Linked DNA regions of Homo sapiens. The protein of the gene in region 2 purifies or fractionates together with the protein of the main gene of each other region. This does not show direct contact. Each region holds a gene or a part of one and is shown on either strand. Other genes may lie near its edges. The genes, in order: SLC9A1, LPAR1, SACM1L and SCAP.

Region 1 (7,425 bases), on a different chromosome or scaffold from region 2:
CATGGCCACAAGAAGAGGCCACACGGTAGCAGAGAAACCCTAGTGCCAAGCAGGTGCTCAAAACCTCAGCCTGGGGCTGAGGGGCTTGCTCTGGGCCAGCCACGTGCCCCACTGGTGAAGGGTGGGCCCTGGGAAGCTCTGTGAAGACCCTGAAGCCAAACTGCCTGGACTGGAATCCTGGCTCTGCCACTCCTGAGTTGTGTACAGGAAGCAAATTCATCTCCCTGTGTTTCAGTTTTCCTGTCTATAAAATGAGGATAATAATACCAAATCTTAGGACTGCTGTGAGGACTAAATCAGCGAATCAAGTGCTCGGAGCCTTACCTGATGCAGTGTTAGCCACATCTGGTGCTATCAAGTCTGCCTCTCACTGCCTGACCTTGGGCACGTCATGCCCATCACTGGGTTTCAGTCCCTCCTTCAGCACAAAAAAGGGACGTTCACACAATGAACTAGAATGTCATTTCTTAACCTCTGGAGCTTTCTGAAAATACACATGTTCAGGCCATACTGGACTTGGACTCTCTGGGATAGGGCCAAGAAATCTCTATGTAACAAGCACCCCAGGGGTTGCAATGAACAGCCAAGTTCAGATGCTATGGAATTAGAGGCTAAGGCATCCCTGTCTCCTGGACTGGGAAATAGATGGTCATTGCAACACTACCATCAGATGTTTAAGTGGCACTTCATACACTGTAAAGCCCTTTGATAGTCTTTATCTGAGTCGACACTCAACAACCATGCGAGGCAGGTGGGTCAAGGATGCTCCTTTGCTAAACCGAGGCTCACAGTGGTAAAACAACACGCCAGGGGGCCCCCAGCCCAGGAGCAGAAGAACTGGGCCCAGAACTTATTCCCTGACAGCCATGGCTGAGGCCTCCCCAGCAGGCTCAGCTTTGAGGATCTGCCCCTCCTATTGCTAGGTCCCTGAGCTGCCTGGCCTACTCAAGTCTGTCCTAGACAGCTCTGCCAGGAAGGAGCAGGGAGTTTCCAGGCCTGGGGGAAGGGAGGGAAGGACGTGAGGATCCATGACAGGGAACCCTCCAAAGCCCCCAGGACCTGGAGCAGGAGGAATGGACCGTGAGGAGTGACCTGTCTAGGGCACAGACCTGAGACCAGGCAGCTCAGGGTCAGCCTCTGGCTTTACTCTCTGGGAAATGGGGCACTCACACCTATGCCAAGAGCTCCAGAAAGACCTGACTTGGGCCAGGCAGCAAGGGGAGATGCAGAGCACTGGCCAGGCCTGGTGCGGCCTGGCCCCAGCTGTCTGGGGGATAGGACAGGGCTCCAGCGGCAGACAGCCTCTTAGCAGGTGCGTACTCAGCCGTGGGCTAAACTCATTCCTGGCCTGAGGGGATTCATGGGTCCTCATGGTCTACCACATGGGCCCATGGAGTCGGCACAGAGGGGAAAGTCCTCCTTTCTGGCCTGGTGCTATTACCCCTGGAACTATAGAGAAACAGAGTAACACAGTGGTAAGCACTTGGGCTTTGGACTCAGACTACGGATTTGAACCTCAGCTATATCATATATCAGGCTTATGTAACCTCTCCGTTCCTCAGTTTCCTCATCGCAAAAAAACTGGAATATAACTGTGTCAACCTCATGGAGTTACTGTATAGATTAAATGAGGCAACATAGGCCAGACACAGTGGCTCACGCCTGTAATCTCAGCACTTTGGGAGGCCAAAGAGGGAGCATCGCTTGTGCCCGGGAGCTTGAGACCAGCCCAGGCAACATAATGAGACCCCATATCTACAAAATAAATAAATAAATAAATAAATAAATTAGCTGGGTGTGATGGCCAGCACCTGCAGTCCCAGCTACTTGGGAGGCTAAGAGGGGATGATCATTTGAGGAGTTTGAGGGTGCAGTGAGCTATGATTGTGCTACTGCACTCCTGAGTGACACTGTCTGTGTGACAGGAGACTCTGTCTCTAAATAAATAAATAAAAATGAGGCAATACACATTCAGACAGGAAGCACCCAATGAACACCAGCAATCACTACCACCGCTGCCACTGCCTTTGGGAGACATGACCATGGGTCCACAAATGGCTGGGTCTGTTACCTGCTTGATGCAACCATGCCCCAAGCTCCACAGCAGTGCTCACCTGAACCCCAACACCCAGATCCCACTGGAGAGGGCTTTATCTTTGGCACTCACTGGCTTCACAGACATTAGTGAGTATGACTCACTAATGTAAGTAATCCTGTAAGAAGCCTGGGAGGATGACAGGCTGAGTACTGCAATCCCTGTGTCACAGATGGGGAAACTCAGGCTCATGTGGTAACCCTGGGCAAGAGCTAGTGCTAGAGGAAGCCAGGATGGAGGCCTGCCTGCTCAGGTCAGGCTATTCTACCCAGCCCCATGAGGAGGCGTGGGAGGAACAGGAAGCTGAGGCTGCCAGCAGCTGAACACCACAGTCTGTCTCTACTCTGAGGTGCTGCTTCCTGAAGGCTGGGGCTGCAGAGGAGGGAGTCATGGCCTGGGAATGCACATGTGCCCTTGAGCTTTCCTGTGTGTGCAGCTGCTCTGAGCGGGACAGCTCAGGAGGGGGTGGGAGTGTTCTCACAACACAACGTGAGCATGCACATGCACACATCTGTTTCCCAAGGAAACCAGCTGGGAGGAAGGGCATGTGCAGGTGTATATGGTGCTACCACGTGCAGACCCTGGAGGAAAGCACTAATCCTCTGCCACTTTGCAGCTATCAAAGGTGAGGCTGGCTGGGCGCAGTGGCTCATGCCTGTAATCCCAGCACTTTGGGAGGCTGAGGTGGGCGGATCACCTGAGGTCAGGAGTTCGAGATTAGCCTGGCCAACATGGCGAAACCCAGTCTCTACTAAAAACACAAAAATTAGCTGGGCATGGTGACACACGCCTGTAATCCCAGCTACTTGGGAGGCTGAGGCAGGAGAATTGCTTGAACCTGGGAGGCGGAGGTTGCAGTGAGCTGAGCTTGCGTCACTGCACTCCTGTCTGGGAGACAGAGCAAGACTCCATCTCAAAAAAAAAAAAAAAAAAAAAAGGTGAGGGCCACAGAGGTATAGCATTTGCTTAAGGTCACACAGCAAGCAAGTGGCCAACTTCTTTTACTTATCACCTTCTAGATGTTTTGGAGACAAGGCCCCTTTCCATAATCTCCGCCCAAAAACTGTGCACAAACCGAATTCTAACTTAAGATATAGCCAACATGAGAGCTGAAAGGCCCCTCACAGATGATATGGTCTGTGAAGAGGGAACTGAGGCACAGAGAGTGTAAGTAATTTGCCCAAGCTCACATCAAAATGCAAGAGAAGGGCCAGGCTTGTTGGCTTAGGTCTGTAATCTCAGCACTTTGGGAGGCCGAGGCAGGAGGATGGTTTGAGGCCAAGAGTTCAAGACCAGCCTGGGCAACATGGTCAAACCCCATCTCCACAAAAAATTTAAAAAATTAGCCGGGTGTGGTGGTGCATGCCTGTAGTCCTAGCCACTCGGAAGGCTGAGGCAGGAGGATCTCAGGCCCAGGTATTTGAGGCTGCAGTGAGTTATGACCGTACCAGTTCACCAGCCTAGAAGACAGGGCAAGACCCTGTCTCTTAAAAAACAAAAAGCAAGTCAAGTCAAGGAGGGAGCATATAACCTAGCAAAACCAAGAGCTTAGGCCCTGGAGTCAGTCAGACCTGGTTCAATCACAAACTGGTTCATACTCCAACAGGTTATTTAACTTCTTTGGGCCTGTGTCTCCCCTGGAAAATGAGAATAATAAGCACCTCTTAAGGCAGCCATGAGGACTTAAATGAGATAATCCATGCCGAAGGGCTCAGCATGGTGCCTGGCATACGGGAAGCGGGAATGTGCCTCAGCTGTTTTTATTACTGTTATTAGCGGGTGGATGAGGGATTCACTGGTGGGCCTGGATTTGGGTTTGTACCGTTTGGACATGGGCATGGCCCCTGGCCTCCTCACCACAGTGACGGCGTCATTGAGCAAGGACTCCCCAAAAACAAGGATGTGCAGCAGCTCATTGATGTGAATTTCCTCAAAGACAGCCAGAACCGCCACGGGGTCCACGGCCGAGATGATGCTGCCGAAGAGCAGGTTGTCCAGGAGGCCGATGTTGTTGATCTGCTCACCGCCCACCAGGCACACGGCGTACATGAGGCCGCCCAGGAAGAAGGCGTTCCACAGCGTGCCCACCACGGCAAAGATCAGGATGGTGCCCAGGTTTTCTGTGAACTGCCGCAGTGGCAGGAAGTAGCCCGCATCCAGGATGATGGGCGGCAGCAGGAAGAGGAAGAAGACGTCGGACTGCAGGAAGGGGGGTGTCTCGCCTACACCCTTGATCAGGCCCCCCACCAGCAGCCCCACCACGATCAGCAGGCAGCTCTCCGGGACGATGCTTGAGATAGTGGGGATCACATGGAAACCTGCGGAGGGCGAGAGAACGGGAGGCCATGGGCTTTCGGAGGAGCCAGGAGAATAGAAGGTTGGGGATGGGCCGGGGATGAGGAGCGCAGTTGGTGAGAGGTGCACAGGCTGGGTCTCAGAGGGCTGCTCTGTTAACTCTCTGAGCCTCCGCTTCCTCGCCTGTAAAATGGAAGGGACAATGCTAGCTTCACAGGTTTGCCATCATAAACCAAGTGACAGTGTTTTTAAAGCACTTTTTTCAAAGGATATATACATGCTATCTCTGTCACTGTCATAAAATGTTAGAAAGCAGCAGTTCTATATGCTTCCAGAAGGCAGAAATTATAAATTGATTACTGACGTGCCAAGTACCTACGGGCATCACCTACGCCTGAACCCAAGGCATTATTCCAGGCACAAGTTCAGGGAGGCAGATCTGAGCTCAACCTGAGGAATAACAATCTAACAATTCTGTCTGAGGGAAGATGGTAGTTCCCTATCACGGAGCTGTTTAAGCAGAAGGCAGACAACCAGCTGGTGGGGAGTGGCATAGGAGACAGAAGAAAGCACAGAAGAATCTAAGAATACCAGCGTGGGAAGGAACTTGGGGATAATAAGGCCTGGGGTCTGCAAACCTGCAAAACAGTAGGCTTTCCTACTGAGTCCAGGCAGCTGCTCAAGACACGGCTCAAGGATGTCAGTGGCAACCAGCTTTGGCAGGTGAGATAAAATCTATTTGCTATCCCGCTTCTAGCTCAATGCCACCCACTTTAAAGATGGGGCAACTAAGGCTCAGAAAAGGGAAGGGACTTGCCCAAAGTCACACAGCAAGTGGGGAGCAGAACTAGAATAGAACACAGGTCTGATGCCCCAGTTCCCATCAAACTGCACAGTTCTGTAATTCAAGCTCTCCTATCCTTCCCTCCCATCAAGGCCTCCTCACACACCCCTCTGCCTGGGACCCACCAGCCATCTCCCCAGGCCGTGTCCTGGCCAGCAACAGGCCGCTCTGCTGTAGTCCACCTTAAGGCTTCAAACCCAGAGCTGAGGAGTAGCAAAAATCCCCGTTGAGAGGGCCTCTCTCAATATCAGGTATGGCCAGAGAACCCTGAGCTCCTGTGAGTGGTTTACTTGTTTGTTTTGTTTTGGGGTGGGAAAGTAGGTGGAAAAAAATCTGAGCATCTAGTTGTATGTTGGGTACTATGCTCCCAGGGTTGGCATAGCCAAGAGGGTTTGTCCCTTTGCTCAAGAGGAAAGCTCTCTCTGGCCTGGCATGGTGGCTCATGCCTGTATCCCAGCATTTTAGGAGGCTGAGGTGGGAGGAACACTTGAGGCCAATAATTTGACACCAGCTTGTACAACATAGGAGACCTCATCTCCACTTAAAAAAAATAGCTGGGCATGGTATGCACCTGTAGTCTCAGCTAGTTAGGAGGGCCGAGGCAGGAAGATCACTTGAGCCCAGCCTCAAAAAAAAAAAAGAAAGAAGAAAGCAAAGCTCTCTCTCCTCCCCTTCCCTATCTTGCAAGCTCTGTGCAGGCAGATCCCATAACTGCTTATCATTATACACCCAGGGCTAGGACACAAGAAGTGCTCAACAAATATCAGCTGACTTGAAAATACACAGGGCTGGGACATCACCCAAGATTTCCGATAACCTGCATGCCTGGCCAGGCCTCTGCTCTCATTACTTACTCTTGAGATCCTTGGGACAGAGGAGGAACTTCCCTCTCCATGCCCAAAGCCCTTCCTACTCTCAGGTAGGAATCTGGGCAGTGCTAGTACGGTGACAAGTCAAAGTTCACACTGCTGGCTGGGCACGGTAGCTCACGCCTGTAATCCCAGCACTTTGGGAGGCCGAGGTGGGTGGATCACCTGAGGTCAGGAATTCAAGACCAGCCTGACCAATATGGTGAAACCCTGTCTCTACTAAAAATATAAAAATTGGCCAGGCGTGGTGGTGGGTGCTTGTATTCCCAGCTACTTGGGAGGCTGAGACAGGAGAATTGCTTGAACACAGGAGGTAGAAGTTGCAGTGAGCCGAGATCACGCCACTGAGCTCCAGCCAAGATCACTCCACTGCACTCCAGCCTGGGCAACAGAGCAAGACTCCATCTTGAAAAAAAAAAGTTCACACACTGAACACTATCCAGGCCCAGAATCCTGGCACAGTGCCAAGCACCCTGAAGACACTCAAAACACATTGGGAAAAAAAGATGTCTCCATCCTAGGCCAAGAGGACCTCGAAGGCACCATGTGCATTCTCCTGATTTCAAAATAGACATGACCAAAAGTCACTTTTTGTTCATCTACTTCCCACATCAATAAAAGGGAAAATAATTCCAAAATCACCCCTTTTGCTGAAAAGTCCCCCAGTCTTTGTACTGTCCACCAGTCAACATCCAGTGTGTAGCTGGCTGGTCCACTGGGAAGGGCTAGTCATGTTGGACCCAAGTCTCTCTTGCTGTAGAGGATAAAGCCCACATTTTCAGCACTGCCTCTGTCATCTGCTCTTGCCTCATGTCCCATTCTCCCCACTGTCAACTCTTAGGTTTCAGCCTTGCCAAATTCCTTGCAATTGCCCCATATGAGCCACATCCTCTTTTGCCTGCCAATCTTCACCTAGTCTAGTTCCTCTCTCTAGAAATCATTCCTCTACCTCTACCCCCACCATATGTGGCTGACACCATATCCTCTGCCTGCCTCCTCCTTCAGGAAGCATTCCCTGACCACCACCTGTCTGCTCAGGTTAGGGCAGGAATCTTCTGGTGCTTCCCTCTCTCATAACCTTCAATCCACAGTCATCTCCCAGGTTCCTCTCTCTCTTCCTGGCACCCACCGAGATCAGTCAGACAACCCAGGCAGAAGCAGCTGAGACAAGACAATGGCATCAGACCCCAAAGACCTGCAGTGTGCTGGAGGGGAGACAGGCACAGCGCAGCGGAGATAAGCAGGATGAAGATTTAGGGGAGCAGAGCTCCTACAGGCAGGGGCCAGAAAGCACCTTCCCAAGGCCGGAAGTCCAGCTCCAG
Region 2 (7,425 bases):
ACACATGGGTTCTGAAACCCAAGTGCCCAACCTTGAATCCCAGCTCCTGACCTTGAATCCCCGTTCCTATACTTCCTAGCTGTGTGGCTGTGGGAGAGTTACCTAACCTCTCCTTACCTCAGTTTTTATCAACTGGAAAATAAGGATAACAAATCAATAACAGTACCTATACGCCATAGGGTTGTAATTTACAAATACTAATTTCTAAGGTAGCACATGATTTATGCCAAATAAGTATTTCACAACTAAAAATAATTATTAAGATCCAGTACTCACTCAAAAGCAGCTTAATACAAGATCATGCTTAAAAACCAGCCATTGGTATTGCCCATTATTAATCTCAAAGATGACTTTATTTTAATATAACTTGACTCATAACAAGTCAGTTGCTGACCAACAAATTCTTCTTTTGATCATGAAGACTGAATAGGTCTAAAACCCAGGGATCATTTTGATGAAGTGAAAATGGAAACTGAGTAATCATTCCCAGAATAAATGGAAGTAAAACAAACATATTATTTACTGAGCACCCATTGTAGCCAGGAGTTTTCCAGGCTGTTGTATTTTAGAAGGCATAGAACATAAAGGTGTCGCTAGGTTTGGCTCCCACATAGCTGAATAAAGTGGCATTTACTGTAGTGAATTCACTACGGCTCTGGTCTTCAGTTTTGAAGGCAGAGAAACTTGGTTTTGTCATCACATGCATTCCCTCAGCATTTATTGACTACCTACTTTGTACCAGATAGCCGTGACAGGCAATGTGGCAACGTGGAGAAAACAAACAATCATTACAATCCTGCCTGCCCTCACAAACCTGGCAATCTGGCAGTGAAGACAAATACTAAAAACCAAATGTACACAAACTAAAGTAAAATAACCAGATTATCAATGGACTAATTTACAAAGAGAAGAACTTCGAGTAGACCAGAATTCTTGTTCCTACTGAAGTGGGAGACCAGCAGGACTTGTTTTCACAACGCTGCTGATCAAAACAGGATGTAGCAAAGAAACCAATCCAAACCAGCAAGGACCAGGAATCATAATACATTTGCATTAGACATTCCTACCAGCACCATGACGGTTTACAAATGCAATGGCAATGACTTGGAAGTTAACCTTACATGGTTTCAGGAACTCCCCACCCCTTTTCCAGGAAGTTCATGAATAACCTGTTTAATTATATTTAGCATTAAGAGTGGGGGCCCAGGCATGGTGGCTTATGCCTGCAATCCCAGCATTTTGGGAGGCCAAGGCAGGAAGATCACTGGAACCCAGAAGCTCAAGACCAGCCTGGGCAACATGACAAAACCCCATCTCTACAAAAAAAAAAGAAAAAAGAAAAAAAAAAATCTGGGTAGCTGGGTGTGGTGGTATGCACCTGTAATCTCAGCTAATTGAGAGGCTGAAGTGGGAGAACTGCTGGAGCCTAGGAGGTCCAGGCTACAATGAGCCAAGATCATGCCACTGCACTCCAGCCTGGGTGATACAGCAAGACCCTGTCTCAAAGAAAAAGAAAAAAGAATGGGTATAAATATAACTAGCCAGCAATCCATTAGTGCTGTTCTGTGCTACCCTGCCTATGAGATAGCCCTGCTCTGCCTTTGGAGTGGTCACTTGGCTGTACACTGTTACGCTAACAAACTTGCTTTCTTTCACTGTTGGTTCACTCTTGAATTCTTTCCTGGGCAGAGCCAAGAACTCCCCCAGGCTGAGCCCCAATTTTGGGGTTTGCCTACATTATGACAAGACCAACCCATGTCTCCCATGTAACCGTGCCTATCTAAGGATGGACACTTACAATTCAAATAGGGGAGCATACTGTAGGAATGGCATTAGGCACCACGCCTTGAAAAACATCTGTTAGGATTGTGACTTCCCCATTCTAAACTTTCCAACCACTCCCTGCCCACATCCTGCCCATTCTCTTATTCTTGCTACTTTTCTCAAAAAGGCTACGGTCCATTTAATTTCTGTTTCCTATATTACAATCTTATTCCCATCTTTCTTCACCAAATACCTTCACCTATCACCGTGACGGGGTTTTCCATGTTCTGAAAGTTCTTCCATCTCACAGCTTTAAAAATCATGCTCTTTATTCCAGAGATGTCAACTGCATTCGATCTTTGTGGAGTATACTAGTTTAAATATTATTTCTGTTATTTTAAAGTTAGTGGTTGTGCAGTGGTAGTAGTTGGGCATGGGAAAGTGGCATTTAGGGCAAATGTACACTGAAACACTAGCTCCTATAGCCTCAAAATGATTATTTCAACCTGAAAAACAACCCAAAGAGGCACAAAAGTATGTGAATCATTCAGTACATTGCACACTGGAATACACAAGATATTATACAAAGGTCAAAATTAAAACAAGAACTTGGCAGGTTAATAGTCCAAGTTCAGTAGTCATTTGCTGCTGGCAATTCTGCAAACTATGAGTAGCACTTGTCGTAATAGAAAAAGTTCATGCATATAAAAAATGTCAACCAACATTTAGGTCATCAGCAAATAAATATTTGAGTCAATACAGGAAAAAAGTCTCATGTTATTTAATGTCTCATGTTTTATTTCATACAAAAATAGCATCCATGGTAAACAAAGATGTGTTTTATCCACATCATGGAAAATGTGGCCTTGTGGCACAGGTGTGCTTAAGGTCCTGTTAATAAACATACAGAGAAACCATTTTTGTAGTTCTACTAATCTTCATTGGATGCAATAAGACAATCTCATATCTGAGGTGATGGGGTCCTCAGTGTTTCAGTTAGTTAGGCAGGGTTTTAGGTGTGTCAGTGATCCCAAGGCTTAGTTGCTATTCTCACAGGTCTACAAGAGGGTCAACAATGAGTATAGCTGAAAATGATGTCCATGATGCAGTCATCCTAACCAAAACAGACGAGACCTATGCATCAATCTGAATACTACTTTATATAATGATCAGCAGGACCCTGTCTCCTTCCAGTGGCTAAAATTAAGGTAATTCCCAGAGTTTCAGAGGAGCCACATAATCCCATGTTACATTCACCCAAAAATGCTATATAAATTGGAGCACAGAGAATTATAGGAACTTTCCATTGAATTTCTGTGGGGAAAGAGGAGGTGATAAAATGTTTTTTTTCAATTTCCATAGGGAAAGATGAAATGATAAAAGGTTTTCAAAAAAGATTTTTTAATGTGATCAAACGTTAACCTGAATATAGTCTATGGAGAATGTATAATTCCATTGGGTAATTATTTTAAAAAACTCTCACTCTACTCTCAGCTCCAAAGGAAATGTCTGTATCTGTCCTTTTCATGGAGCCAGCACAGAGCGTAGAACATAGTAGGTGCTCTTTAACTACCTTCTACACACATAAGTGAATATATTCTTCTTGATCACTACTATGAATTTTTCATCCAAGAAAAACAATGCTTATTTAAAAGCAGAAGGTATTTGAGTCTACAAATCTTGCTCTTCACCTTGAAATATGAATTAACCTCCACTACTACAAATAGAAAATTAATAGAAAATAAGGAAGTTTTCATGAAGATGACTGTCAGAGAATATCATTAATTCCAATCTGTTTTGTTCAGTAAATCTATATAAAACCTTGATATACTACCTATAATGTAGCAACAATTACAGAATAGACTAACAAAAATAACTATATATGGAAGCATATTCATATTCTACAAAAGCACTTTCTGTCTGAAAATATGTAATACAGAAACCACAATGCAAAAGTTTCACAATTTAGGCTGTAAGAAAAATGAATGAGTTTGACTGGTAATTCTGGTATTTTCAATATTAGATAGCCAAACTCTTCAATGACATCTTTTACATCATCATCATTTATACTGCACCACTGGGACCCATGTTTCCCTAACGCTAATTCTATAATTTTAGGAAGACTCATAAGCTGACATTTAATATAAAGGTGCCTCATCCCCTTGTAATTCCTGGTGAATTACCTGGTGAATATTCATACTGTTGGTTACCTCTGACATAAAATAATGTGGTTTATGTTAGTCACTGAGAATCTATAAAGTAAGTTACAGTCAAGACAGAACTTACCAAGCACAATGACCACAGTCTTCAGAAGACTCATCATGGTATCCCGATTCCGCCGGGGTCCAGAACTATGCCGAGACATTCTCATAGTCCTCTGGCGAACATAGCCAAAGATGTGAGCATAGAGAACCACCATTACCACAAAGGTCACCAAGTTGAAAATGGCCCAGAAGACTAAGTAAGAGTCACTGTAGAGGGGTGCCATGTTGGAACAATTTTCAATATCACAGATACAGTTCCAGCCCACACTGGGTATAGCACCCATAACGATGGCCATAGTCCAGATGACCACAATGACCACCACTACCCGCCGGTTGCTCATCCGTGTGTGGAGCTGCATGCGGAAAACCGTAATGTGCCTCTCGATTGCAATAGCCAGTAAGTTGGCCACAGATGCCGTCAGGCTGGTGTCAATGAGGCCCTGACGAAGGAGCCATGTGCTAACAGTCAGTCTCCGAGTATTGGGTCCTGTGTTGAACATGAGATAGAAGTAGGCCAACCCAGCAAAGAAGTCTGCAGCAGCCAGATTAGCCATTAGGTAATAAATAGGAAAATGGAAGCGGCGGTTGACATAGATTGCCACCATGACCAATAGGTTGGCCAACATGATGAAGATACAAACAGTGATTCCAAGTCCCATCACCAGCTTGCTGACTGTGTTCCATTCTGTGGCAAGATGCTTTCCACTTCGGTTATAAAAGAAGGCAATGGACTCGTTGTAGAAGCACTGTGGTTCATTCATGGCTGTGAACTAAAAGAAAAAGGAGAAAAGATGATGAAAAAGAAGGCACAGGTCCAAATTTAAAGCTTATATAGATAACACAAGACTTTTATAGTACATGCAACAGAAAAACAAAAGCAAATAATTTGAACATTTGATCCTGCATACCATCTTGTGATTATGTTGAAACTCCAAGGTTTCTCACAATATTACTGTCCTTAAGATTAAAGGCAGTTGGAGTTAAATAAATGACAAGGTCTCTGCTTAGTGGTTTTATGTCATTGAAGTCTACTACAAAAGCCACATGGCCAAGAAATCTTGCTTAAAATACATGAGACAGACAAAAATTTTGCAGAACATTGCAATTGGAATATTTACCATAGTAAAATCTATTTGACCTGTTATTTAGGGAATCTGTAAACACAGTTGGTTTCTAGATAGGGTATCATTGCCCTATTATTCTGCATTTCTATTCTCACACAGTATGTTCCATGTGGGACAGACATTTTGTAATGCAGGTTCCCACAAGGACCATCATTCCAAACATTTCAAACAAGTCACTGTGCATCAAAGGTTTTTTGCCCAAAGCCAGCATTTGCTGCTCAACATTCCTGTGGTCAGCACTGCCTACCCCCACAACTCCTTAAGTTCAGAATAGGACTTGTCAACCAATCTATGACATTTGAGAATTTTTTTTCTTTTTGGAGGACCCAACGTAACCTCCAAAGAGTAGGTGACCCTTTGACAATGTTCTACAAGTAAAATATACTTAGATTAGATGCAGCATATTTTTTAAAGTGTGGAGTGAAAATGCTTTATAACATGTTTACTTATTCTTCAACATCATTGATAAGAATATATTTGCTTATTATTTACAATATTTATAATAATCACTTTAAAAAGGATTGAGACAGTTTAAAACAGAATAATATATGTTTATTTATCTATCATAATATATAATATATAATTATATATAATTATAATATGTAATTATATATAATAATATATTTAAACAAAATTAGAAAATAAGTAACAAACTAGAAATTAGAAAAGTATACATCACATAGAGTAAGTCATTCTTCTTGAAGCTCTAAGTTTACCTGGGACCCCTAAAATTAAAAAATATATCTTGAAGACGGTTCACATTCTACTTTTTCATTTTTATTTTGCTTTGAATCTAATAAATTACCCAAAACATATGACACTTTTAACCACTATTTTTGATCAAATATTCTACTGAATATCCATAGGTTGTACACTAAAACTTCCAAGAACAACGTGAAATACTTAAGTGGTTAGTCTTCTGACTTACCCAGGCATCTAAAGTCTCTTTCCTTATCTAGACTTTAATAGCTTTTAGATTATGCTTCAAATATTATACTTAATACATTGTATAATTATTTATCTCTTTACTTGTCTGCTTCTTAAAGAGATCACAGTCCAGGGCACAGTGGCTCACATCTGTAATCCCAGCACTTTGGGAGGCCAAAGTGGGTGGATCACTTGAGGTCAGAAGTTCGAGACCAGCCTGGCCAACATGGTGAAACCCCCTCTCTACTAAAAATACAGAAATTAGTCAGACATGGTGGTGGGCACCTGTAATCCCAGCTACTCAGGAGGCTGAAGCAGGAGAATCGCTTGAACCCGGGAGGTGGAGGTTGCAGTGAGCCAAGATCATGCCACTGCACTCCAGCCTGAGTAACAAAGCAAGACCCCAACTCCATCTCAAAAAAAAAAAAAAAAAAGACAAAGTTGATCAAGCTGTTTCCCCACTGGACATGTTTTAAGGGCTTATGAGTGCACGTTAGATAAAAGTCTAAACTTTTCAATCATCTTATCAGACCTTACTTACCTGCCTCTCCAGCCTCAACTCAAGATATTAATGACTCCAAACTCTCAGCTTCAGCTCTATTTAATGTGCTGTGCTCTCTCTCTCAACTCTGGTTCTCAACAGTGAAAACAGTGGTTTCTTGTATCAGAATTACCTGAGAGTTTGTAAAACACTGATTGCTGACATAACCCGCAAGAACTTCTGATTCAGTAGATCTGAGGTAGGGTCCCAAGTAATGCCAAGGCTGCTGGTCCAGGGAATCACTGTATCATAATTGCTTAATTATCTGTTGATCCCCTCTACACTAGGCTATGAAACCCTATAAACGCAGAGATTCTAGCTTGCTTATTCATTGTTGTATAGTATCCAACTGTTCTATGGACTACATGCTAAATACATATTGATTTCCTTAATAAATTAAAGATATTTCCAAAAATGTTTAAACTTTACAAATTTTCTTTCTGCAAAGGATATTTAAAACTTTGTCAAGACAAATATAAAAGTCTGTTCTTTTCATTAGTCTCTATAACCATCTACCTTCTCTGAATCAAGAAATGTTTAAACCAAATATCAAGCGTATATTATTTCCCAGCATTCCAACTTCTGAACACCAAGTAGCAACAAAGTTAAGCAGAGATATATGCAGCTTCTTAGCCCTTCCCACAGAGAAAAACGATAAAGTTAAGGATGGCAAAATTAAGAAGTATAAATTATCTCTTTAAGCCACAATGTACAAAGATGAGTAAAACTGACAGATTTTCTCTAAAGGTAGAGAAAAGTGCCCTGTCCTATGCCATTTCTTTTCTCTCAACAATTGACTGTAATA
Region 3 (7,425 bases), on a different chromosome or scaffold from region 2:
TATTTTTATTTAAGGCTTCTATAGAAGATCAGAGTAAAATAGTTAGGCTTCTTCAACCTAGAATGATGTGACAGGGTAGACCTGATCCAAGTTTGTAAGTTATAAACAGTTAAATTAGAATTGTTTCTCGAAATTCTTGGTGATTAGGAAGTCACTTTATAGCATGCATTGAATTAAAGCTTGGACTGTAACAATTAAGCAGATTTTATTTCGTGTACATTACCTCTGGCTGTGCAGAAAGTTCTCTTAGAAGATGACCATTCCATACAAACCGCTGATCTGCCTGAGAGAAGTTTTAAAATTTAATAAAATATCTCCTGCCAAGCTTACTTTCTACAGAAAGAAAACTACACCAATCAATGTCTCTTTCTGATGGCTAGAAGCCAGTTTCTTTGACAGGCCTCAAACAAAATACATCTCCCCCGCAAATCTGTACCTCCTGTGGGCATTTCTGTCTCATTGTCTCAGGCCAGACAGAAACCTGGGAGGAGTTTTACGGTATTTCTTTCCCTTACATTTAATTGTCAAGTACTAAATCTCCTTCAAAATCCATATTTTTTACATTTCTACTCCCACTATCTTTACCAACATCTGACTCCAGCCTAACTAACACACCTTCCCTTGCCTCCAGTTTAGGCATTAGCCCTCGCCACTCATTTTTCCACAATGCTACCAGCAGGAGTTCTCTAACATGTCCTGTCTCCTATCTGCTCAAAATTCTTCAATGACTCTGTCATCTAAAGAACCAAATCTCTGCATGGCCTAATCAGTCCTAGGATCTGGCAGCCCCTAATTAACTCTCTGATCTCATCTCTGGCCACTCCAACTTTCATAAATACAGAAGAGGCTCCCTCAACAATCTATATTTAATCAACTCTACTTAGGGCCAGACGTGGTGGCTCATGCCTATAATCCCAGCACTTTGAGAGGCCAAGGCAGGCGGATCACTTGAGACTTAGGAGTTCGAGACCAGCCTGGCCGACATGTCTCTACTAAAGATGCAAAAATTAGTCAGACGTGGTAGCACGTGTCTGTAGTCCCAGTTACTTGGGGAGGCTAAGGCACAAGAATCACTGGAACCTGGGAGGTGGAGGCTGCAATGAGCCAAGATCGTGCCACTGCACTCCAGGATAGGTGACAGAGCAAGACTCTGTCTCAAAAAAGAAAAAACAAACAAAATAACTGACTCTACTCAGTAGATTAATCAATTCTATTTATGAAGCATACCAACTGAACCACCAGCACCGCCGACTCTAAAAGTCACAGGGAATGGCTTTTGCACTTGACCACAACCAGCTGAATCGCACTTCCTGAGATTCAAGTGTGTGTTCCTGAATTTGTACCAGTCATACTTATTATTATTTCATCATTATATAGTTTAACTATTTTATAAACCAATGAAATAAGATGAAAAACACACTGCTGTTTCTATAAAGTTAAATGATTTGGAATGTAACTTGATAAGAGGCAAGTTGCTAAAACAAAACTGCTGTTGAATTTGGAGTGGGAGTGGCAACTAAAAAAATATAAAAGAACATAGTAAAAATGTACAGGATTCTGCACACAGATTTCTCTGTAAGTGTCAAAGTCTTTAAAGTGGCCCAAATGGGAAAGCCCTATGGATGTAATTTACACAGGGAAGACAATTCAGAATCAAGGAACCAAAAACAAAGAAAATCCTATGGCCGTACATAAAAACATTGACCAATGTAAAACTTTTAGGTTTTAAGTTAAAATATTTAGGGTATATATGTTCCATTTATCACTTTTATGATTCCCTATGTTAACATTAACTTTTTTTTTTTAGACCGTCTTGCTGTTGCCTTGGCTGGAGTGCAGTGGCGTGATGACAGCACACTGTGGCTTCTATCTCAAGTGAACCTCCCACCTCAGCCTCCCGAGTAGCTGGGATTGCAGGTGCGTGCCGCCACACCTGATTAATTTTTAAATTTTTTTGTAGAGCTGTGGTCTCCCTATGTTGCCCAGGCTGGTCCTGAACTCATGGACTCAAGCAATCCTTCTGCCTCGGCCACCTAAAGTGTTGGGATTACAGGCATGAACCACTACACTTGGCTAACTTTCTGTTTAGCTGACAAAACATTCCCATCTCATCCCAACAGATGAGATGGCTTTTTCTGCAGCTTAGCCTCTGCCACCACCTCTGCCTGGAACCCCCCGGCCCACTGTCACCTGACCAACAAATCTTCATCAAGTCTCAGCTCAAAAGTTACCTTTCTGTGTAAAGTTACTGTCCTCTGTAGATACCTTACTTTATAAAGTTGTCCCTGACAACCTCAGGCAAAGACCCTCATTCCTTCAGGATCCCACCTCACTTTGGTACATATCACCATTATAGCAACCATTCTTTGACTACCACTTCCCCAGCAGACTGTAGGCTCCCACAAGACAGGGTCCACAGCTTCATTCTGGGTCCCCAGGGGCTAGTATAGTTCCTGGTACATGGCTGACGTTGTAGAGATGTTTCATAAACAAATGGAGAATGTAGCAACTGCTTTTAAAAGCAAGTCTCTTTGTAGTTAAAAGCCAAGTTTCTTGAATGCTTAGCCTGCACCTAAACTTCCATCTAAGCCTACATACAATTTTACCAAATTAGAGTTGAAAATCTCACCCAAAAAAGCCAGTCAACTAAAATATTAATTTAGGTTGAACCACATGAAATAACCATTTTTATTGGTCAAAAATGGTCAATTACTGGCGACTTCACATTGTCCAACCTAATAAGTAAGATGGAGCGACCTTTTAAATTCTGTCTTCTCATTAAACACTTCTAAGGTGTGTCAAAAAAAAATTCAGGTAGCAATCATCCAGGTTCCTGAACAAAAGAAACTTTAAGTTGAGATCATATGAAACCTAATTTTAAAGATATATTCACTGTATATTAAAAAAAAAAAAAAAAAAGGCAGACTGGGCAGGCACAGTGGCTCACGCCTGTAATCCCAGCACTTTGGGAGGATGAGGTGGGTGGATCACTTGAGGCCAGGAGTTCAAGGCCAGCCTGGGCAACATGGCGAAACCCCATCTCTACTAAAAACTAGCCAAGCGTGTTAGCACACGCCTGTAATTGCAGCTACCTACAAGGCTGAGACATGAGAATTGCTTGAACCCAGGAGGCAGAGGTTGCAGTGAGCTGAGATCGCACCACTGCACTACAGCCTAGGTGACAGAGTGAGACTCTGTCTCAAAGAAAAAAAAAAAAAGCAAAATAAAAAAAACCTTAAAAGGATATTTTCCAAGTTCTAGTGACTTTTGTTACATTTTTAGTTATAAAAATTATAAATAAGCATCACTACAGAAGAAATATCAACTGTTAGAATATGAATTTTATAAGCCTAATTACACTGCTAATGTAACTGCTACACTACCGAACACTGAGAGTTAAGAAATTACAAATGAATGCAATGCTAGTTTGAAGATTTGACATCTGAGAGTTAGCACTTGGTAGCCTGGTAATACTTATGCAGAAATACAAATTCTGAAAGATTTTCCTCTAATAACTTACATGTGTGTTTATACAAAGATTTCTGAATATCTACACCAGTGATTCTCAATTCTGGCTGTATATATACACAGATTCAAGGACTCACACACTGGGATTGTGATGTATATTTAAAACAGGGTATATTTTCAAAGCCTCATACATGATTCTAAGATAGCCAGGACTGAGAAAAATCAATATAAATTTTTATGCATGAAACAGAGACATGTCCCTTTTAAAAACCTAAAAATAAAAATAATTGAAGATCAAGCTTACCCTTTCCAAGAGACTCATTTCTTGGAATTCAGGACTAGTGTTGGATAGCCGCTGCAAAGTATGGGTCAAATCATATGTTGTTGAAAAGTAAAATCCATCCACATTCAAGACATGGTTTAGCATCGCTAGGAAGGTTTTATTATCTTGTAACTATAAACAAAGAAAAATCAGTATAGCTCATAATTGAAAAGGAATCTGCCAGCATGAGAAAAGAATACAAATTAAATCCTGTTAAGTCCAGTCTCATTAAAGACTACTGGCACAAGGACTGAGCCAGTGAGGGGGATGCTCGCCATTTCCCTGGGATGTAGGACAGTTCCTGACACACAGAAGATACTCAATAAACACTGTAGGGTACTATTAGGTAACTTGATTAGGTAGGACTCCTCCCCTTTGTATCCTTTACAAATTTTATTCTCAAAGGCAGAAGAGTAGTTTTAACAAAACATCACCTTCGGTTATGACCTACTGTGTGCCAGGTATTTTCCAAAGATTCCCTTTAATCTTCACAACAGCCCTGCTAAGTTAGCATAGCTATCTTCGACAAATAAAACACATAAATTTACGACGGGCCCAATAATGCAAACAGCAAATAACAAGATACTAACATCATCCACATTCTCAAGAAACGTTCCCTGGTTTGGGATGGACGAGAAGTAAAATGGAATTCTTTTTCTTTAAAACAAAGATTAAAAAGTCCAGTAAAAGCAATATTTATCTTTATTTTTGGGAAACCATTTTAACTAGCTTTCCCAATGAATACTAAGATTGACATTTGTTTTTATCCTTGTTTTAAAAAACAATTGTTAATGTTTGGTAACGTTTAATCATTACTAAATGATTAACTTGTTAATCTACATGTTACAAATCTACATATACAAAATTTTTTATTTGTGCTCAGACATGTTTTTAAAATTAGCTACACAGCTTGACAACAAAGAATAACAATCGAGAAGAAATTGTCTAAGTAAATATGACTGGTCTATTAAATAAATACAGCTGTTTTTATTTCTTTAAAATATGCCTAGTAGAGAATGAAGATATTGATATATATTTCTTGATATATATAATAAAAAAGAAATTCTAAAGTATAAAAAGCATATCCTGTAGTTTTACTCAGGTAGGCAGTGCTATAATTTTATTTTTTAAAATGTTTATCCTAAGTTATATGTTTTAGAATAATATATTTTCTTCTAGAAACATTCTTATAAATTGGGTGTAAAAATACAACTTAAAATTTTTAAATAGCAAACATGTAACTAAAATTACATTAAGAAAACAATCACTCTCAACAGGTATATATATCTCTAAACAATGTTGACTTTAAAAAGTAAGTTTCAAAGAATCAGAACAGGGCAATGCCATTCATGTAAGTTTCATACACACTCCGAGCAAAAACAGATCCTGTTTAAATATGAATACAGGCAGTCTTTACTTTGTAAAGTGGGAATGTAAAAATTACCATGTTATTTTCATCTTAATAATCTTAAGCTATCTTAACAGTCAATTGTAAAAACTATGACTGTTTCATGACCTTTAAAAATTTTTTTTGTCAAAACATTAAAAACTCTATTGTAAGTTATAGATATTAGTTATAGATATTAACTTATATAGTTACGTTGTAGATGTAACTTGTAAGTTATATATAGTAAATTATAAGCATAAATGAACAAATTGTAAAACTAATATTTAGCACACTATAATTTAAAACATTAGAAACACCGAGAATAAAAAATATTTTCTTTGTAAAAAAATTTATCAAGAGACTTGAACAGTGCTTGCCGCCTTCTTGTCATATAGATTAAGATACAGAATATTTCTTCTATCCCTGGTGAACTGTCATACACCTTCCTAAGTCTAAACCAACTTCTGACATTTTATCCTTTGCACTTTCAATGTTGGGAAATATCTCCAAGGTTTCCTTTAATGGGAAGTCTGTTGCAGGCATCACTTTCTCTGGGATACTGTCATCCCTTTCGTCACAGCCACTCCATCATTAATGTCGGTCAGTTCGCCTGCACCAGGACCTCTGGCTGCATACCTACTGTCCCTTGAATGGTGAATAGTGTCAGCATTCCCATGGTCAGCTACTTCTTCTATGCTCCATTTATGTTCAATTTCAATTTCTCTTCCAGAGTTGTTGCTTTTTGTTTTTTTGCACCTTCATCTTTGGTGGGTTAATTCTTCAGTTAATAAACTGGAGTAACTGAAATTTAAGCCATGCTGTTTGGGTACTGGTGTTAACTAAACTATGGTTACTGAAATCTGTGCATACAGGAATAGTGCAAAAGGAAAACTGCCTGAAAGAATATATACACATTTCATAAACACACACACACACTTACATTCACATGTGGTAAAAATAGAGAAAACCTCTCTGGGAAAGAAGGGAATGAGTTAAGAGGAGTAGAACTTCAAAGGTATTTATATTTTATTTCTTTACAAAGAGGATATGAAGTTAAATCTGGTGTTGAGTACCCGTGCATTTCTGTTTTCCCTTCTCTCCATATGAAATTGCATAATTTAAGAACTGAATCTTTAAAAAAAAAAAAACAAGAGCAACAAATGATTTAAAAAATATTTTTTATGCCTAGGTAGAAAAGTAGGTAGAGTGATCTTACTCTATAGGTTGTTAAAATAATTATAGCATTCTTTGTATTCCACAACACCCTCACCCTCCTCTCCCCAGCCCATGCTACTTCTTTGGGCGCTGCAATTAGTAACAATTTCCAGTTCTTACCTGAATATCAGTTAAGTGCAACATTGTCTTCTTATAAGAAAGGACATCAAAATCTGTTGCTTTCCAGACTACATGACTGAAAAATTCACCTACTTTTATCTTTTTGGTAATGACTATAAGATAATTACCTGCAAAAAGCAAGCCAAACACACATAATTATAAAAATAGTAACTCTAAAGGTAGAAATAGGAGTCCTTATTGTTTAACTTTAAAGGCTAGTAGAATGAGACTATATTGTGCCACTCAGATAAAAGGCCCATTTTTAAAGCAACCTTACAATTTATGAATAGAAAGGTCAGCATATTATTTAGAAAAATTCTTACTGAAAGGTCATGTTTTTCTCAAAAAAGATAAAAGCAAAAGCTTTTCATAACCAAAGGATTTGTCTTAGTAAATGGAAAGTAGAGACAGAAAATACTTCTCTTTCTCTCTTTCATCACCCCCAAGGGATACAGACCTCTGCTAATCATTTCCCAGCAGGCAGCTTAAAGCATCAGGACGTGAGATCTGACACTACAGGGCAATGTCCCTTCCACACCACTCCTATGTCCTTCATGTCTCTCTCTAAATGGTAGAGAAATGTGCTGGGGCAGTATACCTAACTGGCTGCTGCAATATTACAAGGATGAGTGGTCAGGAATCAAGGAGTCATCACAACATCATGCACAATACACCAATCCTGACCTTGCCACCTCCTCACCCCAGAAATACATAAAACAGAGTAACCCTTTCCTACTCAATTAATTCTTCAGGTCTGTTCAACATTCTACCCACAAGTTCCCCCTCTGAAAGTTTTGCCATGTACATGTCTCTCCTGGAACTTGTCACACTGTACTGCAGTAATTTACTACTTACACGCCTCTCTCACTAGACTGTGAACTGCAGGGCAAAATGGACTTTCAGCCTTTATAAC
Region 4 (7,425 bases), on a different chromosome or scaffold from region 2:
TTGTGCTGTTTAGGCAGTGTCCTAGGTACTGTAATATTAGCTTATCTCACTTAGTTTTCATAATAACCAGGTGAGATAACACTGTTATCACCCCCTTTACGGAGAGTTTTAGAAAAGTTATTTGACTGGCCCTGGGTCACCTAGCGAATTTGAGACGGAGTGTGTTGTGTGCAAACTGAGATTTGGCTGACAAAAGAGTCCATCCTTTTATGCTGTTCTTGTACCTGCTTCCACAGTCTGTTTTTTTTTTTTTTTTTTTGAGATGGAGTTTCGCTCTTCTTGCCCAGGCTGGAGTGCAATGGCGTGATCTCAGCTCACTGCAACCTCCGCCTCCCAGGTTCAAGCGATTCTCCTGCCTCAGCCTCCTGAGTAGCTGGGATTACAGGCATGCACTACCACGCCTGGCTAATTTTGTATTTTTAGTAGAGGCGAGGTTTCTCCCTATTGGTCAGGCTGGTCTCAGACTCCCGATCTCAGGTGATCCGCCCGCCTCGGCCTCCCAAAGTGCTGGGATTACAGGCGTGAGCCACTGCACGCAGCCCACAGTCTTTTCTGTTGCTCATTGGCAGGTAAGGGTAGTGGAAGAAGGTGGTAGGGGTGGTGGGAGGAAGCCAGCGTCACTGACTCTAGTGTGGGGATGGTGGAACTCAGCAAGAAGGTGACAGCAATTTGACCACTGCCATTTGACAGTTTCTGCTTAAGCAGTCAAGGGCACTAACCTAGAATGGTTGCAGGGATGCTAAATCATAAGGAAGCTTTGCAGTGGGGTCCAAAGTTGGTATGTAAGCATAAAGATGCACGTGGATCTCAGGAAAAAAATAAAACTAATTTTCCTGTTTATTTCAGCTTCATTTAATTATTATTATTATTATTATTATTTTATTTTATTTTTTTTTTTTGAGACGGAGTCTCGCTCTGTCGCCCAGGCCGGACTGCGGACTGCAGTGGCGCAATCTCGGCTCACTGCAAGCTCCGCTTCCCGGGTTTACGCCATTCTCCTGCCTCAGCCTCCCGAGTAGCTGGGACTACAGGCGCCCGCCACCGCGCCCGGCTAATTTTTTTGTATTTTTAGTAGAGACGGGGTTTCACCTTGTTAGCCAGGATGGTCTCGATCTCCTGACCTCATGATCCACTCGCCTCGGCCTCCCAAAGTGCTGGGATTACAGGCGTGAGCCACCGCGCCCGGCCCCATTTAATTATTATTATTATTTTTTTGAGATGGAGTCTCACTCAATCTGTTGCCCAGGCTGGAGTGCATTGATGCTATCTTGGTTTACTGCAATCTTGGTCTCCTGCCTCAGCCTCCCGAGTAGCTGGGATTACAGCTGTGCACCACCACACCTGGCTAATTTTGTATTTTTAGTAGAGATGGGGTTTCACCATATTGGTTAGGCTGGTCTCAAACTCCTGGCCTCAAGTGATCCACCCACCTTAACCTCCCAAAGTGCTGGGATTACAGGCATGAACCACCATAATAATTTTTATTATGTACTTTATAATGTACACTGTATTATCACTGTAGTACATATATAATTTATATGTAAGTGTACATGTATTGGGAGCATATACTTGAATTTTTGTTGTTGGGCATTCATGATCAAAACATTTGGGAACCAGTGGCTTATTTGATATTTAGCATTTTCAGAAAGCATAAAATATACAAGGTGTTGGCCAGGCACAGTGGCTCATGCCTGTAATCTCAGCACTTTGGGAGGCTGAGGAGGGTGGATCACCTGAGGTCAGGAGTTCGAGACCAGCCTGACCAACATGTGTGAAACCCCGTCTCCACTATAAATACAAAAGTTAGCCAGGTGTGGTGGCATGCGCCTGTAGTATACCTCTAAGTATACTAGAACTATGTTGATGTTTTCCTCTCTCTGCCTTGGCCACTAGGAAGCTCAGAGTCAAGTTTGTATCCAGGGTCTTCCAGCTTGTGCTTAAGTGTTTTAATCGTCTAGATTGTTTTTAATGGTTTCTGCTCTTTGTCTCAGGTTTTACTATAAAATACATAACACATTTCCTTCCCGTTCTAAATATTACTGTGATTGTATTCTTATAGCCAAATCTTTGTTCTTATTCTTATTTTATTTTATTTTTTATACTGTTGAATCCCTCTGAGCCTTGCCTTTCCCTGCCTCCTCTTCTGTACTCATTTTTGCTAAAATTTGTAAGGGGATAAATTCTTGAAAAGCTTTGCACATTTTGAAGACTTGTTTGTTTTTTAATATTTATTATAGTAAAACTCAAATATACATCCAAATAGAGAGCAATAAGCCCTTGTGTACCTATCACTCAGTTATGTCTGTCACTTAGTCATTAACTTGGGGACACTCTTGTTTCATCTATATCCTTTAATCCTCATTATACTTTTTTTTGGGGGGAGAAGTTTATTAATTGATAGGTGTTACTTTGGGGTAAATGAGGAGGGAGCCCACTAGTATGCTGGGGAACTGGTAAGGTTTTTTTGTTTTTTTCTTGAAACAGAGTCTTGCTCTTGTCGCCCAGGCTGGAGTGCAGTGGTGCGATCTCGGCTCACTGCAACCTTCGCCCCCCTGGGTTCAAGCGACTCTCCTGCCTCAGCCTCCCAAGTAGCTGGGATTACAGGCACCTGCCACCACACCTGGCTAGTTTTTGTACTTTTAGTAGATGGGATTTCACCATGTTGGCCAGGCTAGTCTTGAACTCCTGACCTCCGGTGATCTGCCTGCCTCGGCCTCCCAAAGTGTTGGGATTATAGGCGTGAGCCACTGCGCCCCGCAAAGGTTCTTTTCTTTGGGATCCTTTCCTGTCCTTAGAGAAGACCCTTTAGCTTTCTGCCTGAGGAGCTGATGCCTAGTTGTCAGGCTTTCTTCTTGCCCAGATAAGGGTGTTAACTCCTGTGTACAGATGTTCACTTAATCCTTTTTACCAGTCCCACATCTCACTATAGCCCTATGCTACACCTGGGTTTCTCCATCCCAAGCCCCTTTAGGGTCTCTAGTGCCAGTCTTCTTCCTCATTGGCTATGTCCCCTAGGTTCTTTTTTATTTTTCCCAACGGTGATGCACTTACTGAGCAGATGCAGTAATCTTCTTACCTGAGCCTACATATAACCATTGGCCTAAATGTATGATGGTTTGCCAGCATCAGCAATAAGACTGGTAATGGGGTAAAAAACAAGTTCTCTTAAGGCTAGCTCTTGATCCCCTGTTGTAAGCTGACCAACTTAATCTGAAAATAATTTGCAGCATGTAAATATTTTAGGATTAGAGCCATCTGTATACACACTTAAAAGTAGTTTTGCTACCATTACATTAGTCTAAAAGAGTTACCTAAGAATGCCAAACGATATTTTGTTCGAATGCCTTGGTTATTTTAATTTAAAAGCATTTCTTTCAAAACCGCTTCTCTCTTCACAATAGTAGAGCTGTGGCAGTGAACTAAGAGGTCAAGGATTCAGTGAATCTGTGGCTAATTTCTTGTTCCAATCTGAGAGCTCTCTTTGCACTATGATCAAAATGGAGTCTTGCCAACTGCCCAGGGTAATAGCCTTGCAAGTCTCTTCCTTGTTGAGCAATGAATATAAGTTCCACATGGCTGGGGAGGCCTCACAATCATGGCAGAAGGTGAAAGAGGAGCAAAGGCATGTCTTACATGGTGGCAGGCAAGCCTCTTCTCATTATACTTTTAAAATTATTTGGTGGCTGGGTGCAGTGGCTCATGCCTGTAATCCCAGCACTTTGGGAGGCCAAGGTGGGTGGATCACTTGAGGTCAGAAGTTCAAGACCAGCTTGGCCAACATGGTGAAACCTTGCCTGTACTAAAAATACAAAAATTAGCAGGGTCATGGTGGCACGCACCTGTAATTCTAGCTACTTGGGAAGCTGAGGAAGAATTGTTTGGACCCAGAGGTAAAGGTTGCAGTGAGCCAGGATCGTGTCACAGCACTCCAGCCTGGGTGACCGAACAAGACTCTCAAAACAAACAAACAAAAATTATTTGGTGATTTTTTTTTTGAGACGGAGTCTCCTTGTCACTCAAGCTGGAATGCAACGGCGTGGTCTCTGCTCACCGCAACCTTTGCCTCCCGGTTCAAGCGATTCTTCTGTCTCAGCTTACCAAGTAGCTGGGACTACAGGCATGTGCCACCACACCCGGCTAATTTTTGTATTTTTTGTAGAGATAGGGTTTCACCATGTTGGCCAGGCTGGTCTTGAACTCCTGACCTCAAGTGATCTGCCCACCTTGGCATCCCCAAGTGCTGGGATTGCAGGTGTGAGCCAACGTGCCTGGCCCATTTTAACCATTTTTAAGTGTACTATTTAGTGACATTAAATGTATTCACATTGTTATGCAACCATCATCACTATCCATTTCCAGAATGTTTTCATTATTCTACATAGAAACTATCGATCCAGGAGCCATATGTAGAAAGCTGAAACTGGATCCCTTCCTTACACCTTATACAAAAATCAATTCAAGATGGATTAAAGACTTAAATGTTAGACCTAAAACCATAAAAACCCTAGAAGAAAACCTAGGCAATACCATTCAGGCCATAGGCATGGGCAAGGACTTCATGACTAAAACACCAAAAGCAATGGCAACAAAAGCCAAAATTGACAAATGGGATCTAATTAAACTAAAGAGCTTCTACACAGCAAAAGAAACTACCATCAGACTGAACAGGCAACCTACAGAGTGGGAGAAAATTTTTACAATCTACCCATCTGACAAAGGGCTAATATCCAGAATCTACAAAGAACTTAAACAGATTTACAAGAAAAAAATCAAACAACCCTATCAAAAAGTGGGTGAAGCATATGAACAGACACTTCTCAAAAGAAGACATTTATGCAGCCAACAGACACATGAAAAAATGCTTGTCGTCACTGGCCATCAGAGAAATGCAAATCAAAACCACAATGAGATACCCTCACACCAGTTAGAATGGGGATCATTAAAAAGTCAGGAAACAACAGGTGCTGGAGAGGATGTGGAGAAATAGGAACCCTTTTACACTGTTGGTGGGACTGTAAACTAGTTCAACCATTGTGGAAGACAGTGTGGCGATTCCTCAAGGATCTAGAACTAGAAATACCATTTGACCCAGCCATCCCATTACTGGGCATATACCCAAAGGATTATAAATCATGCTGCTATAAAGGCACATGCACACGTATGTTTATTACGGCACTATTCACAATAGCAAAGACTTGGAACCAACCCAAATGTCCATCAATGATAGACTGGATTAAGAAAATGTGGCACATATACACCATGGAATACTATGCAGCCATAAAAAAAGGTGAGTTCATGTCCTTTATAGGTACATGGATGAAGCTGGAAACCATCATTCTGAGCAAACTATCGCAAGGACAGAAAACCAAACACCGCATGTTCTCACTCATAGGTGGGAATTGAACAATGAGAACACCTGGACATGGGAACATCACTCACCAGGGCCTGCCGGGGGATGGGGGGAGGGGGGAGGGATAGCATTAGGAGATAAACCTAATGTAAATGACGAGTTAACGGGTGCAGCACACCAACATGGCACATGTATGCATATGTAACAAACCTGTATGTTGTGCACATGTACCCAAGGGCCAGTGGGTGGGAATTGGTATCTCATTGTGATTTCAATTTGTATTTTCTAAGGAATATTGATGTTGAGCAATTTTTCATATGTTGATTGGCCATTTGTATATCTTCTTTTTTGTTGTTGTTTGGGTTTTTTTTTCTTTTTCTTTTTCTTGAGACGGGGTCTTCTTGCTCTGTTGCCCAGACTGCAGTGGCGCAATCACAGTTGACTGCAGCCTCAAGCCTCTGGTCCCAAGTGATCCTCCCACCTCAGTCTTCCAAGTAGCTGGGACTGCAGGCATGTGCCCCCATGCCTGGCTTATATTCATATTTTTTGTGGAGATGGGGTTTCACCATGTTGCCTAGGCTGGCCTTGAACTCCTGAGCTCAAGTGACCCATCCACCTCAGCCTTCCAAAGTGGTGGGATTACAGGCATGAGCCACCCCACCGAGCCTGTATATCTTCTTTAGAGAAATGTTCATTCAAGTCCTTTTCTCACTTTGAGTTATTAATTGTTATTTTGTTGTTATTGTTGAGTTGTAGGAATTCTTTACAAATTCTGGATATTAAACCCTTGTTAGATATATGATTTGTGAATAGTTTCTCCCATTCTGTTGGTTAGCATTTCACTCTCTTTATTGTGTGATTTGCACAATTTTTAACTTTTTTTTTTTTTTCTTTTTTAAGACAGAGTCTCCCTCAGTCACCCAGGGTGGAGTGCAGTGCTACAGTGTTGGCTCATTGCAGCCTCCACTTCCTGGACTCAAGCAGTCCTCCCACCTCAGCCTCTCAAGTAGCTGAAACTACAGGTGCACACCACCATGCCTGGCTAATTTTTTTTGTATTTATTTTTTTTTAAGATATGGGGTCTTGCCATGTTGTCCAGGCTGGTCTCAAACTTCTGAGCTCAAGCAGTCCGCTTGCCTTGGCTTCCCAAAGTGCTAGGATTAAGGCGTGAGCCACCACGCCCGGCCAAAAGTTTTTAATTTTTATGAATTCCAGTTTATCAATTTTTTTCTTTTGTTGCCTATACTTTTCAATCCTTGCTAAACTCAGCATCATGAAGATCTTTTTCTTATATTTTCTTCTAAGGGCTTTACAGTTTTAGCTCTTCTTTTTTCATTTATTTGATCTATTTTGAGTTAATTTTTGTGTATAAGAGTCCAACTTCACTTTTGCGTGTAACTATCCAGTTTTCCCAGTAGCATTTGTTGAAGAGACTGTCCTTTCCCCAGTGACTGGTCATGGCATCTTTGTCAAAAATCAGTTGATTATATTTGTGAGAGTTTATTTTTGGGTTCTTTTTTCTTCTTCTTTTCTTTTTTTCAGGTTAGATGGGTAGTGCTGACATCATAACAAGGTTCAAGAATGACTCATCTCACATGTGTGTGAAACACCCAGGTATCATACTGATGAACTACAGAAGATCTGGGCTCTCTATTGTTTTATATGTCTGACCTTATGCCAGTACCACATTGTTCTGCTTACTGTAGCTTTATAGTAAGTTTTGAAATCAGGAAGTGTGAGTCCTCAACTTAGTTCTTGTTTTTCAAGTTTGTTTTGGCTATTCAGGGTTCCCACTTTTTTCTTTGGACAAAGTAATGGGGAGAATTTCTTTCTTTTTTTTTTTTTTTTTTTTTGGTTTTTAAGACAGTCTCACTCTGTTGTCAGGCTGGAGTGCAGTGACGCAATCTTGGCTCACTGCAAACTCCACCTCCTGGGTTCAAGCGATTCTCCTGCCTCAGCCTCCTGAGTAGTTGATATTACAGGCACCTGCCACCACGCCCAGCTAATTTTTGTATTTTTAGTAGAGACGGGGTTTCACCATGTTGGCCAAGATGGTCTCGATCTCTTGACCTCAT

The links.
Region 1: the proteins of LPAR1 (region 2) and SLC9A1 purify together in Homo sapiens (affinity purification with mass spectrometry; 4 studies listed by BioGRID and IntAct, with this or other methods). This does not show direct contact.
Region 3: the proteins of LPAR1 (region 2) and SACM1L purify together in Homo sapiens (affinity purification with mass spectrometry; 4 studies listed by BioGRID and IntAct, with this or other methods). This does not show direct contact.
Region 4: the proteins of LPAR1 (region 2) and SCAP purify together in Homo sapiens (affinity purification with mass spectrometry; 4 studies listed by BioGRID and IntAct, with this or other methods). This does not show direct contact.

What each region holds. Positions count from the first base shown.
Region 1 is NC_000001.11:27,109,874-27,117,298, forward strand, and holds part of SLC9A1 (sodium/hydrogen exchanger 1), read right to left. Parts: intron 4,414-7,425; coding exon 3,953-4,413; intron 1-3,952. UniProt on the Homo sapiens protein: Electroneutral Na(+) /H(+) antiporter that extrudes Na(+) in exchange for external protons driven by the inward sodium ion chemical gradient, protecting cells from acidification that occurs from metabolism.
Region 2 is NC_000009.12:110,937,371-110,944,795, forward strand, and holds part of LPAR1 (lysophosphatidic acid receptor 1), read right to left. Parts: intron 4,799-7,425; coding exon 4,051-4,798; coding exon of another isoform or gene 3,971-4,050; exon of another isoform or gene 2,542-3,970; intron 1-2,541.
Region 3 is NC_000003.12:45,705,995-45,713,419, reverse strand, and holds part of SACM1L (phosphatidylinositol-3-phosphatase SAC1), read right to left. Parts: intron 6,641-7,425; coding exon 6,513-6,640; intron 3,923-6,512; coding exon 3,773-3,922; intron 284-3,772; coding exon 224-283; intron 1-223.
Region 4 is NC_000003.12:47,465,915-47,473,339, reverse strand, and holds part of SCAP (sterol regulatory element-binding protein cleavage-activating protein), read left to right. Parts: intron 1-1,824; exon of another isoform or gene 1,825-5,287; intron 5,288-6,891; exon of another isoform or gene 6,892-6,991; intron 6,992-7,425. UniProt on the Homo sapiens protein: Escort protein required for cholesterol as well as lipid homeostasis.